2 linked regions of the Homo sapiens genome follow. The protein of the gene in region 1 interacts with the protein of each later gene in a pairwise test. Each region holds a gene or a part of one and is shown on either strand. Other genes may lie near its edges. The genes, in order: ZNF821 and PIM2.

Region 1 (7,690 bases):
GTTATACTCACATTGAATAAGCAAACATAAAATCATAGTTTATTGCCTTAAGAGGAGTTATGGGAGACTACTGCTAGCTATATTTTGTACTCCAGTTAATGAAGACTCACCTCCTGTTATGCCAACTAACTCCTCTATGTAGCTAGAAGGACCTCAAACCTATAATCAGATCCTGCCTCCCCTTACCAAAAGAATAAAGAAACCGCAAATGGCAAAGACAGGCCTCCACAGGAAGTGGCAAAGGAAGCAGCTTTCAGGCAGTCTTCTAGCATATCTGCATATCAAACACAGTTCTTTTTCAGACCTTTAATTAAAAACAAAACAAAACAAAACTCTAAATGTATACAATAAAAATCAATTTAAACTATTTAGAGGGCAATATACTGAGTGCTGATAGTGTATGTTCTCTAAGTTTTGTGTATGTCATTTTTTTCTAATCAAGTAGTTGTTTTATTCACGGAAGCAGTGAATGAATATCACACTTTGGATTTCCTATATGTGTGTGGAATCACCAAGTGGAAAGGTAATGAAATGCAGGCTCTATTAATATTTTTAAAAATATGGCCAGGCACCGTGGCTCACGCCTGTAATCCCAACACTTTGGGAGGCCAAGGCAGGCAGATCACTTGAGGCCAGGAGTTTGAGACCAGCCTGGCCAATATGGGGAAACCTCTAATAAAAATACAAAAATTAGCTGGGCATGGTGGTGCACACCTGTAAATTCCAGCTACTCGGGAAGCTGAGGCATGAGAATCGCTTGAACCTGGGGAGGGGAGGTTGCAGTGAGCTGGGATGGAGGCACTACACTGCAGCTTGGGCAACAGAGTGAGACTCCATCTCAAAAAAAGATAAAAAACTGCCATGGGCGGTGGCTCTCGCCTGTAATCCCAGCACTTTGGGAGGCTGAGGCGGGTGGATCACCTGAGGTCGGGAGTTTGAGAACAGCCTGGCCAACATGGTGAAACCCCGTCTGTACTAAAAATACAAAAACTAGCTGGGCGTGGTGATGCATGTCTGTAATCTCAGCTACTCAGGAGGTTGAGGCAGGGAATTGCTTGAACCCGGGAGGCGGAGGTTGCAGTGAGCCAAGAACGCACCACTGCACTCCAGCCTGGGCGACAGAACGAGACTCCGTCTCAAAAAAAAAAAAAAAAGATAAATAAAAATTTAAAAAAATAAAATATACTCCTCTAATGTGATAATCTATTGAGGCTAAATATATATATACTCTATTATAGAAGAAAAAACAGAATCTTGACTAATTTTTATATTTTCTCCCTTCAAGATCAGAAACTGAAACTGTAAGATAAAGGTAATAAAGTCCCTTCTGAAGGAAGGCCAAATAATTTGAACCAGACAACATTTCAATATTAAAGCTCCAAGTCAAAAGACAGAGATGAGTGTCTGCGTATTTAAATCAGCAATGCCCGCTGCATCTTATAATCCTCCTAGTGGCCAAATGGGGAACTGACCAGATGGTACCCAATGGGACTTCACACCTGAGTGATCAAGAGAAAAATAAGCAATTACAGTCCCCTCCCACACAACGAAACGAAAATAATAACAAAAACACCCACAAAAACAGGCCTGTGGGGTCATGGGCTGTTGAAAATCAATAAGTAAATAAATAAATGGCGCTGAAAGGACACTCTTGACCACAAAGCAAGATCTCAGAGGCCAGATGACTTGTTTTATAGGCAGTTAAAGCTAATAAAACCCAGAGACATACAGCCCTAAAGGTCACTCATTTTGTTTTACTTTTAACACTGCCTCAATTTCCAAGCCAAAACCTGAAACCAAACCAAACCAAAAATGTAAATAGATAGCTGCCTGAACATGGGCTGGGAAGACAGGTAAACGGTGAGATTCAGGTCTAAAGGGATTCCATTTTAAAAGGAAAGCAGTTCTGTCTGTCTTCAGAGCAAGGTTAAGAGTCCTCGGGAAGGTGCAACGTCTCCCCTGAACACTGTCTCTGCTCTCCCACAGGTATTAGGTTGCAGCGTCTAGGGCACACCACAGACTTTGGCAAGAAAAAAAACGAGTGAAATCTCAGCTTGATGAAAAGAGAGTGCGTTCCCACCTCCAGCTCTGGTGCAGTTCCCACGGAGCAAAGCAAACTCGACTGAATCCAAGTGATCTGTATCTGCCAAAAAGGAGAGGACAAGAAAGCTGGTCACTTAGCCGCCTGGCTGTTCACCTGACCCCTGGGGTTGGGTCTGGGGCGTGTCTAATCAGCCGAGATGGTCCCTCTGCTTCTTCAAGCATGAGCCCAGGTAAATTCCCAGGAATTACCAGACAAGAGCCTGACAAGAGCCGGAGGTCTTCCGAGGCGGCTCAGACAAACCCTTAGACAACACAATCTCCGAAATCTAAATTTAGAAGCTTTTCTGCGAGACCCAGACGCGGGGACTGATACCCCCCGGTCTGCACGCCCACGCCCATCCTCCCCTCCCCCAGCTCCACCCAAGGCTGTCAGACGCCGGGGCCGTCCCCGCCGGGGCCCGAGGAGGCGGGGTGCCCGCGGCCCGCGCAAAAGCCCCCCGGCCCCGCACCCCGCGCCCCGCGCCCGAGAGCGCCAAGGGGCAGCAGGAGGAGCGGCCGGGGAGGAATTGGGGTTGGAAGCGGGGAGGGTGAGCCCGGGCTGCCCCCCTAGGCCGGAGCTGGCCCCCGGCCCTCTCCCCAGTGCAGACAAAAGGACCAACAGCCGGCGGCCGCGAGGGGGCGAGGAGCCCGCATCCCCAGCCCGGACCCGGAGGGAGGGCAGGGGGTCTTTTTACCCGGCGCCTCGGCGCTGCGCTGCGCTCTGGGTCCCTGGGCCCCGCCTCCGGACAGACGGACCGCCGGACAATGGACCCGGGACCGCAGCCCAAGCCAGCCGGGCCGGGGCGCTCCGGGACTGGGCCCCGGCGAGCGGAAGGGGCTCCGGGCCGAGCCGAGCCGGTGGCGGGGAGCCGAGGGGCGGCGCTGCAGACGGACAAAGCCAACAGCAGACAGACAGACGGAGGGGGAAAAAGATGGCGACGCGGGCGGCGGGAGCGCGCGGCTCGCGCACCCGCAGCTAGTGAGGCGCGTGCACGAGCCTCCCTCTCCCCCTCCCCCGCGCCGGCCAGGTCCCCTTCCCCGCGGCCCGGCGCGCGCCTGGCGTTGTGGGCGGGGCCTGAGGAGAGGGGCTCTGGAGAGGAGGGGCTCCGGGGAGCGCCCAATCCCGGGCGCCCGAGAGGGGCTCGCCCGCGTTCCAGGGCTCCGGAACCCCCCGCCTCGCCCATTCCCGGGTCTTTCTCTGGCTGTCTCAGCCGCTCAGCTCCCCCAGACCTTCCTGGACGTGTAAACGCCACCCTACCCAGCCCCGATCCTGGTTTCTTACCCCACCATCGAGTTCAGCCACAAAACCCACAACCCCCAACCACAGCTCCGCCGCAGGCACCCCCTCTCCTTAGCCCGGATCCCCACCACCGTCACAAACCCTCTTCGCCTCATTCCCCCACGCTTCGCGGTGGCTTCGGCTCCCGAGGCTTTGAATGTGACCACGGGCCTTGGTGGGAGGGGCCAAGTTCAGCTGTCAGAACCTCAGAGCTGGGAAATCTTGAGATTTCTTTTGAGTATTTAATTTTCTGACATGATTCTCAACTGATAAAATAACATTGGCTGCAGACCCAGGGGCAGGGGAACTTGTGGCACTGTTGTCACTTGAGGGATGTTTGGGGGCAATGGAGAGCCGTTGGACCTTTTTTTTTTTTTTTTTTTTGAGACAGAGTCTCGCTCTGTCACCCAGGCTGCAATGCAATGGCGCGATCTTCGCTCACTGCAACCTGCGCCTCCCAGGTTCAAGCGATTCTCGTGCTTCAGCCTCCCGAGTAGCTGGGACTACAGGCGTGCACCACCACGCCCAGCTAATTTTTGTATTTTTAGTAGACGGGGTTTCACCATGTTGGCCAGGCTGGTCCCGAACTCCTGACCTCAGGTGATCCTCCCGCCTCGGCCTCTCAAAGTGCTGGGATTACAGGCGTAAGCCACTGTGCCCGGCCTGGTTGGACGCACTTCTAGTCAAACACCTCCTCCTGTCCACGTCCTTCTCTCTCCTAGTTCCTGTTGCCTTCTTTTCTTCCTCTCTTCTAGAATGCCTGAGCCTGCCCTGGCATCGCTTACCTGGAGAAGCAGGGAATGCAGAGGAAAGAAGATGAGATCTGGTATTAGAAGATCTGGCTTTGAGCCCCAGCTCTGCCACCCACCAGCCTGTTGACTTTGGGCAAGTCACTTCCCTGTTCTGAGCCTCTGCTTCCTAAGATGTCAAATGGATAATGATGCAATAATTCCTGGCCTTTACTCTCCGAGGGTTGTTGTGCCAGTTAAGTAAAACAAATGGCTAAAAGCATCATGCAAATGTTTTTCGTGATTACTGGCTGCACAAAGGCAGGGCTAACGAGGATGCTGTCATTTGCTGATAAAGTGACAAGTCCTGGTATTTGCATAGAACATTCTTGCAAATTGTCTTTCCCCTAAATCTTTTATGAGATGATCTCATTGTCTGCATCTTGTGTTCAATGTAATAGAATGATTACATTGAGGGATCTTGGTCCTTCACAATTCTGTGATAAATAGCTCATTCATCATTCACTCATTTATTTATTGTGATTAGGATACTTAGATAGCAATTATTGTTGTTTAACTTCAGTCAAGGAAACATTTTAATTTCATTTAAAAACTTAGTTTCCAAGTAGACAGAAAATGGAATATTATCATCCAACCCGCAAGTGTTTGTACTATTTTGTGTAAGAATACAACCTAGAATACACACTGGCTTTTATATTTAACAGTAATTCTTGATCAGTTTGGACTGAGGGATACAAGTATGGCTTTATTATGTCACTTTAAAGCTGACTTAGTTGACATTTTCAACAGAAAAGTAGCAAACAGGTAAAGTTTGCCTCCAGTGAAATTTCTTGGATGCATTATTATTATGTAATGTTGGGCAGCTTATTCCATCTCCTTGACTTCCAAATAAAATGAGATGATAATAATGCTATTCTTATGACTTCCCTGTGCTCTAAAAATTTCTCAGAGGTGTTGTGATTCAAGGTTACAACCAAATAATGAAAAAATTATTAAATACGTAATTAGTTTAAGTTAGGCATGGTGGCTGGCACCTATAGTCCCAGCTACTCAGGAGGCTGAGATGGTATGATGACTTGAGCCCAAGTGTTTGAGGCCAGCTTGGGCCACATAGTGAAACCCTTGTCTCTTTAAAAAAGAAGAATTAATTTATTTTTCCTCTGCTTTCACCTAAACTTGTTCTACATCTAGAAGACCTTTTAATTAACCATATATATTTTTTTAGCTTCACTTTTTTCTACTTTCCCAATCTACTCACAGTTATGTCATCATTTTGCCACTTCAACTATTTAACTTTCCACTTGAAATATCTTCCTAATCCATTTTATATTTGTTGGCTTCTACAATGACCTTGTTAGGGCTCTATATTCCAACAATAAAGGTAGGAGGATTTTAAGAACCTCATGTTACATTTTTTTAAATTAAGGTATAATTCACATACCATGAAACTCATGCTTTTAAAGTGTACAATTCAGTGGGTTTTGGTACATTCACAGGGTTGACAACATCACTAGTATCTAATTCCGGAATATTTTCATCACCCCAAAAAGAAATCCCATACCCAGTAGCAGTAACTCACCATTCTCCCTTCCTCCAGCTCCTGGCACCCACAAATCTACTTTCTGTCTGTGTGGATTTGCCTATTCTGGACATTTCATATAAATGTGATTGATTATACAGTATGGGACCTCTCGTGTCTGGCTTTTGTCACTTAATCTGGCTTTTGTCACTTAATAGGTTTTCAAGGTTCATTCATGTTGTAGCATATATCAGTACTTAATTCCTTTTTATGGCTGAATTATATTCTGTTGTATGGATATGCCACATTTTATTTATCCATTCATTAGTGGAACGATATTTGGCTTGGGCCTACTTTTTGGCTACTATGCATAATGCTACTATGAACATTTGTGTACAGTTTTTGTGTAAACATATGTCTTTACATTATGTATGGACATGGGTGCATACATATATCTAAGAGTGGAATTGCTTGGTCAAATGGTAACTCTATATTCAACCTTTTTTTTTTTTTTTTTTGAGACCGAGTCTTGCTCTGTCGCCCAGGCTGGAGTGCAGTGGCGCGATCTCGGCTCATTGCAAGCTCCACCTCCTGAGTTCACGCCATTCTCCTGCCTCAGCCTCCCAAGCAGCTGGGACTACAGGTGCCCGCCACCACGCCCGGCTAATTTTTTTTGTATTTTTAGTAGAGACGAGGTTTCACCGTGTTAGCCAGGATGGTCTTGATCTCCTGACCTCGTGATCCGCCCGCCTCGGCCTCCCAAAGTGCTGGGATTACAGGCGTGAGCCATCGCGCGCAGCCCTCTGTGTTCAACTTTTTGAGGAAGTGCTAAACTGTTTTCCTAAGTGGCTGCACCATTTTATATTCCTATCAGCAACATATGGTGTTTCCAATTTCTGCACAACCTGGTCAACATTTGTTATTGTTTGTCTTTGACATTAATGGCCACCCTAGTGGATATAAAGTCATATCTCATTGTGATTTTAATTTGCATTTCTCTAATGACTAAGGATGTTGAATATTTTTTCATGTGCTTATTATTGACCATTTGGAGAATGTCTATTCAAATCCTTTGCCTATTTTTAAATTGAGTTGTCTTTTTTTTTTTTTTTTTGGAATCAGGGTCTCACTCTGTTGCCCAGGCTGGAGTGCAGCACAGTGGTATGATCACAGCTCACTGCAGCATTGACCTCCCTGAGCTCAGGTGATCATCCCACCTCAGCCTCCCGAGTAGCTGGGACTACTGGCATGCCCTTACAGGCACACGCCACCACACCTGAATAATTTTTGTATTTTTTGTAGAGACGGGGTCTCACCATGTTGCTCAGGCTGGTCTGGAACACCTAGGCTCAAGCAATCTCCCCGCCTCAGCCTCCCAAAGTGCTGGGATTACAGGCATGAACCACTGCGCCTGGCCTAAAATTTATTTTTATTTATTTGGTATCCCAAATAAAAATAATATTTATTTTTATTTATTTGGTCACGGCACATAGTGTCCTTTGAAGCACAAAGTTTTTGATTTATATGAAGTCTAATTTATTTTTTCCTTCATTGCTTGTGGTTTGGATGCCATGTCTACGAAACTATCACCGCCTAGTCATGAAAATTTACACCTATGTTTTCTCTTAGGAGTTTTTTAGCTCCTACATTTAGGTCTTCACTCCATTTTGAGTTAGTTTTTGCATATGGTGTGAGGCCGGGGTGGGGGGCAATTTTATTCTTTTGCATGCAGTTATCCAGTTTTCTTAGCACCATTTGTTGTAAAGACTGTTCTTTCCCCCTTTGAATTGTCTTGGTATCCTTGTTGAGAATCAATTGGTTATAAATGCATGGGTTTATTTCTGGACTCTCAGTTCTATTCCATTGACCTATATGCCTATCCTTATGCCACTATCATACAGTCTTGATAAAAATCTGATATTTTAAAGGACAATGTTTAAACTTTTGTGTTTATATTTAGAATCTAGAGTTACAAGTTTTCATGGCTTTGAGTTCATTTAAGGAAAAATTAAGTTTTCTAGATGATTACAATGATGATAAATGTAAAAACCTGATTTGAAA
Region 2 (3,637 bases), on another chromosome or scaffold:
GCTCAGGAGTTCCAGCCTGGGCAAAACGACAAAACCCCGTCTCAAATAAAAAAAAAAAATTACCCGGGCTTAGTGGTATGCACCTGTACCCAGCTACTCTGGAGGCTGAGGCAGGAGAACCGCTGGAACCCGGAAGGCGGAGTTTATACTGAACCGAGACAAATAAGCAGGGCAAGAGAGGGAACAACTCAGGTCGGAACAAGTGAAACCAACATGGAATAGGGTAGGCCAGGTAAGTCAAGTGTTGAAGGAGAAATTAGAGGGATGGGTATGTAAGGGTAAAGATGGGGGAAGAGGCTAAAGATAAAGAGCAAAACAGGTGACTACACCCTGGACAGATTCCAGTCAGCGCCCAACCCCAGCCCCGCCCTGGCCAGTACCCTGACAGGGCTTTTCTTCTGCAACAGGGGAAAGGGCTTCTTCATTCCCCTGGGGTGCCAGGGAAGGTAGTTTTTCTGCTTCTGAGATAGCCATCTTGATTGGGGATGTGCCCTAAACACCTTCAATATGCACAGTATCTCCAACAGAGAACCCTTCTGCACATACTGGGCACTGCATAAGATCAGGGGCAGGGGAATCAAGATTTTTTTGTGTGTGTGTGGTGCAGCTTCAAGAATCCTTAAAGCTCTTTAGGATGGCAACATAAGACTGTGGCTTCCTGAGGACAAAGCAGAGGGACAGTCTGTCTCAGTGCACAGTAGATGCTCCATAAAAGCCTCACACCTACAAATGGCCAGCCGCTTCTGATTCTATTACTTTTATTAAATAGTGGGTTTCCACACATGGCTTTTTAAATAATCCAGGCAGGAGAAGAGAGGAGGGCACACTTGGAACTCCCCTCCCCACAATACGTGATTATTTACATTTTAGTAATTGGACAATCCCGGCTCAGGAGGAGGTTGCAAGAATCTGCAAAAGTTGGAGGGAGCGCCCCAGGAGAACAAACAGCAAGCCTTATTTCCCCTAGCCCATCCCCCAAAAAACCATCCATCCCATCCTAGTGTCTGGTGGTGTCCGGTGGTGTCCATCTTCCATTCCTTCCCAAATTATGGAAGTAAGGTTCTTCTCACCAGAATAAGAGCACTTGGGATAACAGAGTAGGGTCCCCTCACCCAAAAAAAAAAAAAAAAAAAAGAAGCCTTGGGGTAACAACAGGGCATTACCTCCCCCAGAATAAAGAATCCTGGGCTGAGGCAGGTAAGCAGCTTGACCCAATATGGGACCCTAGGCTAGGGGAAAGGGTCCCTTTACTAAAATAAAAGCTACTGGGGTATTGGAAGGAAAGCACCCTTGCCCAAGTAAGAGCATATGAACTAAGTTTGTGTGGTGGTAGTAGGAGGTGCCAATGTGGGGTGACACATCATCAGAATAAGAGTCCCGGGGCTCAGAATGGGAACAACTTCACCAAAATAAACTTCCTTAGCAAAATGAGAAGCAAGAAGTTCCCCCTCCAGAATCAGGGACCACAGGTTCTGGGAGGAAGGCTCCTTTGTAGGATTGGGAAGGGAACTGGGCAGACTTGGTTTATGTCTTCTAACCCCTGATCCTCAATCCCTTACCTTAGTAATACTGGACTTTAATGACTGGTAATGACCTGTAAAACCAAGTCAACAAATGTCCATCTATCCCTGTGACATGGCCATGGGATGGCTCTTCTGACCATTGGGGGCCAGGCCAGGCCAGGCCAGGCTTAGGGTAGCAAGGACCAGGCCAAAGGGGCAGGGCCTCCTTTGGAGGGGTTGAGGGGTACATCCTCGGCTGGTGTTTGCATCCAGGGGTCCAGCAGGATCTCTTCCAGTGAGGGTCGGGAAGAAGGTTTGGGGGCCAGGCACCGGCGGATTAGGGCACAGCAGTCTGTAGGCCAAGAAGCAGAGAGGGAAGATTAGCAGTCAGTAGGGGGTACTGGTCCCTGAGAAGGATGGAGTCTTCTGGGCTGGGGTCAGTGAGGCCTCACCTGGGGAGACATGGGCTGGGAAGTGGAGCTCAGCTTCCAGAATCTCCTGGTCCCTCTCAAAGGGAATGTCCCCACACACCATGTCATAGAGGAGGATGCCCAGTGACCAGACAGTGGCCGGGAGTGCATGGTACTGGTGTCGAGAGATCCACTCTGGGGGGCTGTACACCCTTGTCCCTGCACACAAGCCAGGGGTTAGACCAACTCAATCTCATGATGCCCTTCTCCAACCCCAAACTCTCCAGGAAGGATGGCCTCACCACAATTAAGAGCACTCAAGATAAAAGCAGAGTCCCCTCACTAGATAAAAAGCAGCTAAAATAACAGAGTCCCCTCAACAGAATAAAAGCACTGAAAAGTAACAGGATCCCCTTACCAGAGAAAGAATACTCAGGATGGTAACAGGATCCCCTCACCAGAATAGGAGCCCAGAATAAGGTTAGCACACCATTAAAAGATGGACTTTATCAGAGGGCAAGGCTGAGAATCCCCAGTATTAGCAATCGATCATCTTATATAATGCAGTATGGGTCAAGGATTACAGGACACCCCACCACTGGAGGCCAAAGGTCACAAGGCCATCAAGTAAAAACAATCCCTCCAGGGAGATTTAGAGAAGCCTTACCATCAAAGTCAGTGTAGGGTTCATCATGAAGCAGGGCACCAGAACCAAAATCAATGAGTTTGGCACAGCCACGGCGTAGGTCTATCAGGATGTTCTCATCCTTGATGTCACGATGGACAACTCCACGGGAATGGCAGTGCTGGATGGCTGCCACTACTTGGCCAAAGAAGCAGCGGCTTGGGCCTTCACCCAGTGGGCCCTTCTCTGTGATATAGTCAAAGAGATCCTGGGCGGGCAAAGGCCGCTCGAGGACCAGCATGAAGCCCTCCTGTGTCTCAAACCAGTCAAGCAGGCGGATCACGCCAGGGTGCCCACCACCTGCACCCACTTTCCATAGCAGTGCGACTTCGAGTGGGCATGTGACTGAGTCTGACTGGGGGCACAGGTGGGGTGGGAAGCAGGGAGAGAAAAAAGACAGATGTCAGGGCAACAGCTCTGAGGCTTTTTACCTAAGCTCAACTCAGGGCCCCTTTTCCTGACAGTGTGTCGCTAAGCAACTCACTTCCCTTCCTGGGCCTCACTTTCCCTAAAGACACAAACTCACACAGCGATTGAGAGGGTGAAACCAGCAAAGAGCCTGCACAAATCTCGCATGTCGTAGATCAATAAACATTTGAATAAACGAAAGAAGTTCGGCCAGGCACAGTGGCTCATCCCTGCAATCCCAGCACTTTGGGAGGCTGATGTGGGTGGATTGCTTGAGCCCAAGAGTTCAAGATCAGCCTGGGCAAAATGGCACAAACACAAAAATTAGCCAGGCTTGGTGGCATGCACCTGTAGTCCCAGCTACTTGGGAGGCTCAGGTGGGAGGGTCGCTTGAGCCAAGAAGGCAGAGGTTGCAGTGAAGATCACACCACTGCACTCCAGCTGTCTCAAAACAAACAAGCAAAAATACAAAGAAAAATCTGGTTATCAACTGAAGGCTTTCAGCAGAAGCAGCACCACCATTATGTGTTTTGTTTTGTTCCCTGACATATCCCAGATTAGAATAGTACCTTACACAGGTGATCAATAAATGTTAAACAGATGACAGCACTTAATAGCATGGGCTCTGACAA

What was found.
Region 2: the proteins of ZNF821 (region 1) and PIM2 interact in binary tests that used the Homo sapiens proteins (3 or more experiments, as listed by UniProt).

The regions. Positions count from the first base shown.
Region 1 is NC_000016.10:71,881,131-71,888,820, forward strand, and holds the start of ZNF821 (zinc finger protein 821), read right to left. Parts: upstream 3,053-7,690; 5' UTR 2,778-3,052; intron 2,412-2,777; exon of another isoform or gene 2,144-2,411; coding exon of another isoform or gene 2,081-2,143; intron 305-2,080; coding exon of another isoform or gene 187-304; intron 1-186. UniProt on the Homo sapiens protein: May be involved in transcriptional regulation.
Region 2 is NC_000023.11:48,912,441-48,916,077, forward strand, and holds the end of PIM2 (serine/threonine-protein kinase pim-2), read right to left. Parts: intron 2,953-3,637; coding exon 2,580-2,952; intron 2,132-2,579; coding exon 1,955-2,131; intron 1,855-1,954; coding exon 1,691-1,854; 3' UTR 742-1,690; downstream 1-741. UniProt on the Homo sapiens protein: Proto-oncogene with serine/threonine kinase activity involved in cell survival and cell proliferation.